Linked DNA regions of Homo sapiens. The protein of the gene in region 1 purifies or fractionates together with the protein of each later gene. This does not show direct contact. Each region holds a gene or a part of one and is shown in the gene's direction. Other genes may lie near its edges.

The links.
Region 2: the proteins of SECISBP2L (region 1) and IQUB purify together in Homo sapiens (co-immunoprecipitation; one large-scale study listed by IntAct). This does not show direct contact.

What each region holds. Positions count from the first base shown.
Region 1 is NC_000015.10:49,036,366-49,040,193, reverse strand, and holds part of SECISBP2L (selenocysteine insertion sequence-binding protein 2-like), read left to right. Parts: intron 1-2,424; coding exon 2,425-2,603; intron 2,604-3,828. UniProt on the Homo sapiens protein: Binds SECIS (Sec insertion sequence) elements present on selenocysteine (Sec) protein mRNAs, but does not promote Sec incorporation into selenoproteins in vitro.
Region 2 is NC_000007.14:123,499,827-123,503,654, reverse strand, and holds part of IQUB (IQ motif and ubiquitin-like domain-containing protein), read left to right. Parts: intron 1-291; coding exon 292-453; intron 454-538; coding exon 539-711; intron 712-902; coding exon 903-1,058; intron 1,059-3,828. UniProt on the Homo sapiens protein: Adapter protein that anchors the radial spoke 1 (RS1) complex to the A microtubule of outer doublet microtubules in axonemes. The triple radial spokes (RS1, RS2 and RS3) are required to modulate beating of the sperm flagellum.

The sequences.
Region 1 (3,828 bases):
GTGCAGCCATTAGTTTTGAATTATACATAATACCTTTTAAACAGTAGGTTGCCTAAGTTTATAAAACTTTCTATGAAGTACAAATGAAGTGGGGTGTAAAAATTTTTTGCAGCTTTTGAGCTGAGCAAGAATTTGAATGTATTGCTACCAAAGTAATTTATGAGTTGATATGTTTTGGGGGGAGAGGTCAGAAAAAGTGTTATTTTAAAATTATTTATTTATGATTATATTAGTATGGTTAAGATTGATAATTTGATGTACCCATATACCTTGCTGAAAAAAACCCCGAATGTCTACTAGCTCAGATTTATAAAACTGCTCAGTGAGTTCTCATATGTCGTAAAGAACTTTTTGTTTTTTAAAAGAAATCCTGGCCAGGCTCATGCCTATAATCCCAGCACTTTGGGAGGCTGAGGTGGGAGGATCACTTGAGCCCAGGAGTTCAAGACCAGCCTGGGAAACGTGGCAAAACCCCATCTCTACATTAAAAAGTTTGCTGGGTATGGTGATGTGCACCTGTAGTCCTGACTACTTGGGAGGCTGAGGTGGGAGGATCACTTGAGTCCAGGAGATTGAGGCTGCAATGAGCCATGATGACACCACTGCACCCCACCTCCACCTCCACCCCGTGACAGAGCGAGACCCTGTCTAAAAAAAAAAAAAAGAAAGAAAAAAAAAAGAAATCCTAAAAATTACATTTTTAGTGCAGTTAAACTGTGATTTCAGTTTCTTTTCTTATGCATGTATGTGTGAACTGTATAAAGCAAGCTTCCATTATCTTTGCATTATTGCTGTACGTCGGCTTTTCTTTTTCCTAATTGGGGAAATATTTATTGTTTTGATATATTGTGTCCTATATAAGTGAGTTTGGGTTCTAATGAATATCACAGAGTGAAAATTACTAGCTTGTATCATTAGAGTTTGAAGATATTTTTGCCTCTTATGTTAATCTTTAAGAAACCAACTTCAGTTCACTAATATTTGTATTATTATTATAGTATATCTACTTCTGATTTGGTTAATAGTACAAATGTAAACCTCAAATCAGGTAGGGAGGAAGGATACTGAATTAATACTGCTGGACAGTTCAGATTTTACCATCCCCACCCCTTCCCTTTTAACAAGCATTTATAAATATTTACAGTGAACTTTTTAGAGAAGTTAATTTTTCTGAAACAAATGAGCATATCTCATCTTCAGATTTTTTACTTGGATTCCTTACTAGCTGCTTTTGTGAGAAACATGAAATTTATTCTTACAACTATGTTTTGGTGGGAGCCTCTAATAAATATCACCCTAGTGGGTTTGTTGGGAAAAAGTTCTGGCTAGGACCATGGCTTTTAAGGTAATTTTTTACAGTAGTTAAAAACATTAGCTTGCATTTCACTTACTGGTTTCATTAAAACATGTTTCATATCATTTGATATTATAATATTTATATGATTTTTTACAGAATGTACTTAATGATTTCAAAAAATAATTTAAAATGTTAAATTTGTTGTTAACTATAACATATAGAAACTGCATAAAACCAATGTACAGCTTGATGAATTGTTACAGGACAAACACCTTGTAAATTTTATCCTGGTTAGGATATAGAACTTTGCCAGGCACCCTGGAAGCTCTCCAGATTCCTCTTAATCACAACTCTCTTTGCTAAGAATAATTCCTATCCTGACTTTTATGGATTTTATTTACTTTTCTTTATAGTTTTGTTGCCCATATGTGCATCCCTAAATACTACAGGGTTTTTTTTTTTTTTATGTCTTTTAAATCTCTATAGATTTCTTGTAAGAAAAGATACAAAGTAAACTAAAATGGATTACATATCTTGGATTACTTTAGTTTACTCACATGTGTACTGGGAAACTGAAGTACTCATATTTTCCCCAGTTTAACTGTGCAGATTTTTTCTTGTTAATGTTAAGTATTTTTTCATCTTAGACATTTTTTCTTTTAATGATACTGATCTAATTTCCAGAAATGGACAGAAATAGACAACTTTTAAGACTATTCAAACAAATATAGAGTAATAATTATCCTTCATAATTTTGTTCAATTTTTCCCCCAACAAAATGAGTTAAAAACACATTGTTTTGTCTGAAGAGCTACATCTCTTACTACCAACTTTATTTTTAGAACCTGAGGTATAACTTCTGTGTTCTCTTGATTGTTTTAACAGCTTTAATTACATTGAAATGTAACATTTGGTTTATTTTCCTTATTTGATGGCTTTGTCTAAATAACTTGATCATTATTCAGTTATTTTAAAATTGACATTGCTCTTCCTTTTGGATGTTTTATGAATGCTGAGAAGAGACCTAATTACTGTTTATAAGGACTGACTCTTCTGTTGTTAAATTTTGAATTTGTAGGAAGTTGCTTGCTCATTTGTTATTAATGTATTCTACTTTCTCTTTGAAGAATGTCAAGCTGTCAGCTGAGGTGGAGCCATTTATTCCCCAGAAGAAGAGTCCTGATACATTTATGATCCCTATGGCTCTCCCAAATGATAATGGAAGTGTTTCTGGTGTGGAACCAACTCCAATTCCCAGCTACCTGATTACTTGTTACCCATTTGTGCAGGAAAACCAGTCCAATAGGTAATTTGTTTATTTTTATTTTCTTTTTTGTGGGGGTGGCTATAAAAGCTGGCAAAGTGCACTTAATATTTTTCCTTTGCAACTTTTAGACTTTAACCATTTCTCTATTAAGAGGAGTAAATAAAATGATACTGAAATTTGGAAATTGTTGATATGGATTAGTTTCTCATTTTTTCTAAGAGAAAATTGAATTCTTAGGCTATGTCTCCTTCAGTAAGTCATTGAAATTTATTTGAAGTAAGTCAGCTCAAAGGGAGAAATAAAATATTCAGAGGTGAACAAAAACCTTTTTTTTTTTTTTTTTTTTTTTTTTTTTTTGAGATTGAACATCTAATCTCATAGTTGCCAAGATAGTCTCTGGTGTAAAAGAAAATACCAAGCAATAGTCCTTAACTTTGAAGCTGTCATGGTTAGCATATATTAGTATTTCTAGACTCAGATTTTAGTTTAAATTTATGTCTGTGCTATAGTTACAGGATGATTTAGCAAAATTGCCCGCAATTAGGTCATGTGTAACCTAGTGGTTAGGGTGTTACTTATGATAGTCGTGATAGCCATTCTAACCCTGCTTATACTGTCTGAGTGATTAGCACTTCATTGGTATAGTTTATTTTATGGCTGTATAAAAGTACTTTCAGCCTTTTTCAAGTTATGTCACACAGAAAATTTCGTTTTTCTAGGACTGTAAATGGATGAGGCAGCTGTTAACTGGCTATAGGCTCTGTCATTCCTGAGGGCTGAGTCAATCAATATTTCCACCCATCTATAAACCACTGTTGCACATTAGTGTGCCAGTGCACATTCTTTGAGAAATTGTGGATGTATGGTATATAAGGCCATTCAACTACTCAAATATTAAATGTTCAAGTTAATATTCTGAGGCTGTTAATCAAGAGTCTTGAGGGTTAGACAAATAGTAGAAACTAAGGAATCATTTTCAATTGAAGTTAGCATGATATTAAATATCTTTGCCTATATTGGATAATGTGCAAACTGATTCATGAAACTAAATTTAATAATACTATTTTTCTATTTGAAAAAATGGCCAAGTATACAGTATGATAAACTTAATTGATTTTCTTGGTTTACCAAATAATCTTTGTGAATTTATGAGTAAACAAGCCAACAGATTATTTAAAAAATATTTTTAAGAATATGGCCGTGAACATTTTACTATTTTGCTTTGTCATGGGAGTAATGAGGAAAAGCCCTATGCTTCAACTCC
Region 2 (3,828 bases), on another chromosome or scaffold:
TGTGTAATTAGCCATTTCTAGAAATGGTGACTATAGTTAATAATAATATATTACATATTTGAAAATTGCTAAGAAAATAGATATTAAGTGTTCTTACCACAAAATGATAAGTATATGAGGTAATGGACATGTTAATAGCTGTATTAAGCTACTTCACAATGTATACATAGTTCAAAGCATGCTGTACACAATATATACAATTTTTATTTGTCAATTAAAAACAAAAAATAAGATCAATGAATAGCCATTTCTTTGTCATAAAACTTTTAAAAATTTTATTTCAATTTTTAGGAAAAATTCTTAAAAATAATGAGACTCTAGTACAACATGGAGTTAAGCCACAGGAAATTGTACAAGTGGAAATCTTTTCTACAAATCCAGATCTGTATCCAGTCAGAAGAATAGATGGATTAACTGATGTCTCTCAAATCATAACTGTCACTGTCCAAACTGGTTCGTTATTTGATGTCTTTTAGATAAAGTATTTTTGAGTCCCTTCTTGGTTGAGCTTTCATTGAATCTTGGTGTTATCTCTCAGGACTTGATCAATACCAGCAGGTACCTGTTGAGATTGTCAAATCTGACTTTCACAAACCATTTCTTGGTGGATTCAGACATAAAGTAACAGGAGTAGAGTATCACAATGCTGGAACACAAACTGTACCTAAAAGGATTCCCGAAAGACTCAGTATATTTTGTAGGGATACGCAGGTAATGTTTTTATTTGTCTCTTTAGGTTTTTGAAGGTATAGACTCAATAATTGTACTGTATGACTCTCTCAAATTTCTCTTAAGTAATTATATGGCAATTAATAAAAGAAAATGAACTCACATATGTAGAAAAACTCCCTTATGTATATATATAGGGGATACTGATTTAAATTTTTAATGTTTTCTTTTAGACAGTTTTTCAGAAAAAAAATCTCCAACAAACTACAAATACAACATCCACACAGATGACTAACATTGGTGTATATGTATCAAATATGACTGATAAACTGGTAACACCAGGAAAGTATTTTTCAGCAGCAGAATACCATGCTCAAAGACTAAAGGCGGTGAGATAACTTTTATTGTGGATGAATACTAAAAATTTGATATATAAGCCAGTTGTTCCGAGTGTGTCTCTTTCTCCAAGCCACATTTGCTTGAGAAAGAATGCTCATGAGTATGGGTCATATTTCACTGCTAACAAAGCAGTCTTTATCTCCAGTATTCCCCCATGTAAAGAACCAGCATCCTAAATGCTCCTAATCCTTCCTTTTCTCTTAGGGAAACCCAGCTTCTTTGTGTATTGCCTTTGGCCATTATTAGCCTTCTCAACACTGCTGTCCCTTGGCCTTAAATCTTGTCACAGTAGAATCACCAAGGGAACTTTCGAGACTAATTGAAACCAAATAGGACAGTAGTCGATTTTCTCTGATATTAACATAGCCGCTCCAACTCTGTTTTATTTTTTTGCATAGTCTCTCATTTTTCATTCTTTTACTTTCAACCTATTTGATCTACCTCCTACCATCAATTTACTGTGAGTAAAAATGACCTGAAAGCAGTGACTTTAAGAGATTTTGCTTTTCAAATGACAAGAAATCTGGAGCTAGGCTATTCAGCCCAAGACCTTTAGAGACAAACTTGTAGTGAAAAAAAGTTAAGTCTGTTGACTTAATTGCCCTGAAGGAGACAGTATACCAGGGGAACCATGGGGTTAACTTTATAGCAGGCTTTATCAGTGCCAGTTATTCCAGCCTGATAATTTTTTACTTTTTCAGTCCAAACTAAATTTCACCAAATAAAGGAATATATGGAGTTATTATATAATTTGGGGAAGAGTGAAGTTTGAGTGGGATTTAGGGGAAGCAGTATTCTGATTGTCTCAATGCAAAACAAGGGTGTGTATAAATGGGCCAACATTAGGTCTGGACTGTGAAGTAGACCAAGGTCACGTTCCTTTGGAAACAAAGTTAAAAGAGATGGGAAATGTTTCTTAGAAGTTCTCTGAAGTTCAGCACCTTGGTTGTATAATTGAGGCTGCTTCTCTCTGTCAAAGTGACGTGCAACCTCTAGGCAAGAGTGGAATGTTTGTTTCTTACTGATCTAATTTCAGACAGGAAAGTTTCTGATAGTTTCTGAATTTAGAGAACGAAGTTTCTCAGTGAGTAAGAAGATAGCAGTCACTAAAAGAAGGGGATTGTTGAAATATTTTATAGTTGTAGAGTGTCCTTGGGAGAAATACTGTTTTTGTTAATTTTGTAGCTGACCTGATTAGTGCCTGTTATTCCAGCCTGACAATTTTTTACTTTCTCAGTCTTAATTAATTTTTACTTTCTTACTATACTGGGCATGGGTGGTGACTCTATGATGTCATCAGAATCATAAACTCCTTTCATCTTTCTACTCCATTAAGCTCATCATGAGCTTGTTACTGTATGAAGATAAAATGGTTGACTAACTTTCATCATGCCTGCATTCCATGTGAGAAGAAGGGAAAAGTCAAGGCAGCATGTTCCATGAATGCCACCTTCAAGGATTTCCCCGGAAAGCCCCACCCAGTGACTTCTACTTGCATCCCATTGGCTTGAACTATGTCATGTGACTATCCCTACTGCAAAAGTGTGTGATAAATGAATTTTTAAAGTAGCATATCATTGCTCCTCAATGAGATTGCAATCTTAGTAAGAGAAAGTAGGGCAAAATGGATATTAAGTAAGGAAATGGAAATTTCTGTCATTTTCCAAACTCCAAAAAATGATATTGAAAGAATAAAAGTATAAATATACAAGGACAAAGAATACATGAGAAGAGTAAATGTGAGTTGTGTTTTTTTTTTGAAGTTTTAAAGCAGATGGAAAAGTGTTAACTTGACTTAGTAGAGCAGAGGAAGTGAAAATCTAAATGCTGCCAACGAGGATGGCATCAAGAACCAAATAGATTTGCCCCATAGAGTCTTGAAAGGTGAATTGGAGGTTCTGTGGGAGGTGGAAGTGAGGTGTGACCTGTTAACAGAGGAATTTGTTAAAAGCCGGTATAGGGAGTACATTTCCGTTTAATAAGTTCTTTTAACCTTGATTCCTTTCTACTTGGGTCATGTTTATTTTATTTTTTTAATAGGTTTTGAGTTCACTGCTTACTATTTTAAATCTTTCTTGTTTCAAGAAAGATGATATTTTGCGTGACTACTGATATTTTTGGACTCATTCTTGCTATTTCATTTTGTTTTATTTACTAATTATTCTTATTTGTTTATGCTTTTTTTAGCCTTTTCTTTTTGTTGGTTTGAATAAATGTTTCTTTTTTTGTTCTTTCATAGTTCAGAAATAAGTATTTTGTTTTTTCTAGTGGTTATGTTACAGAAAAGTGGTCCCGATCCAGACCCCAAGAGAGGGTTCTTGGATCTCCCACAAGAACTAATTCAGGGCAAGTCCATAGAATAAAGTAAAAGCAAGTTTATTAAGAAAGTAAAGGAACAAAAGAATGGCTACTCCACAGACAGAGCAGACCTGAGGGTTGCCTGGTGCTGGTTGCCCATTTTTATGGTTATTTCTTGATGATATGCTAAACAAGGGGTGGATTATTCATGCCTCCCCTTTTTAGACCATATAGGGTAACTTCCTGATATTGCCATGGCATTTGTAAACTGTCTTGGCGCTGGTGGGAGTGTAGCAGTGAGGATGACCAGAGGTCGCTCTTGTCGCCATGTTGGTTTTGGTGGGATTTAGCTGGCTTCTTTACTGCAACCTGTTTTATTAGCAAGGTCTTTATGACTTGTATCTTGTACTGACCTCTTATCTTATCCTGTGGCTTACAATGCCTAGCTGTCTGGGAATGCAG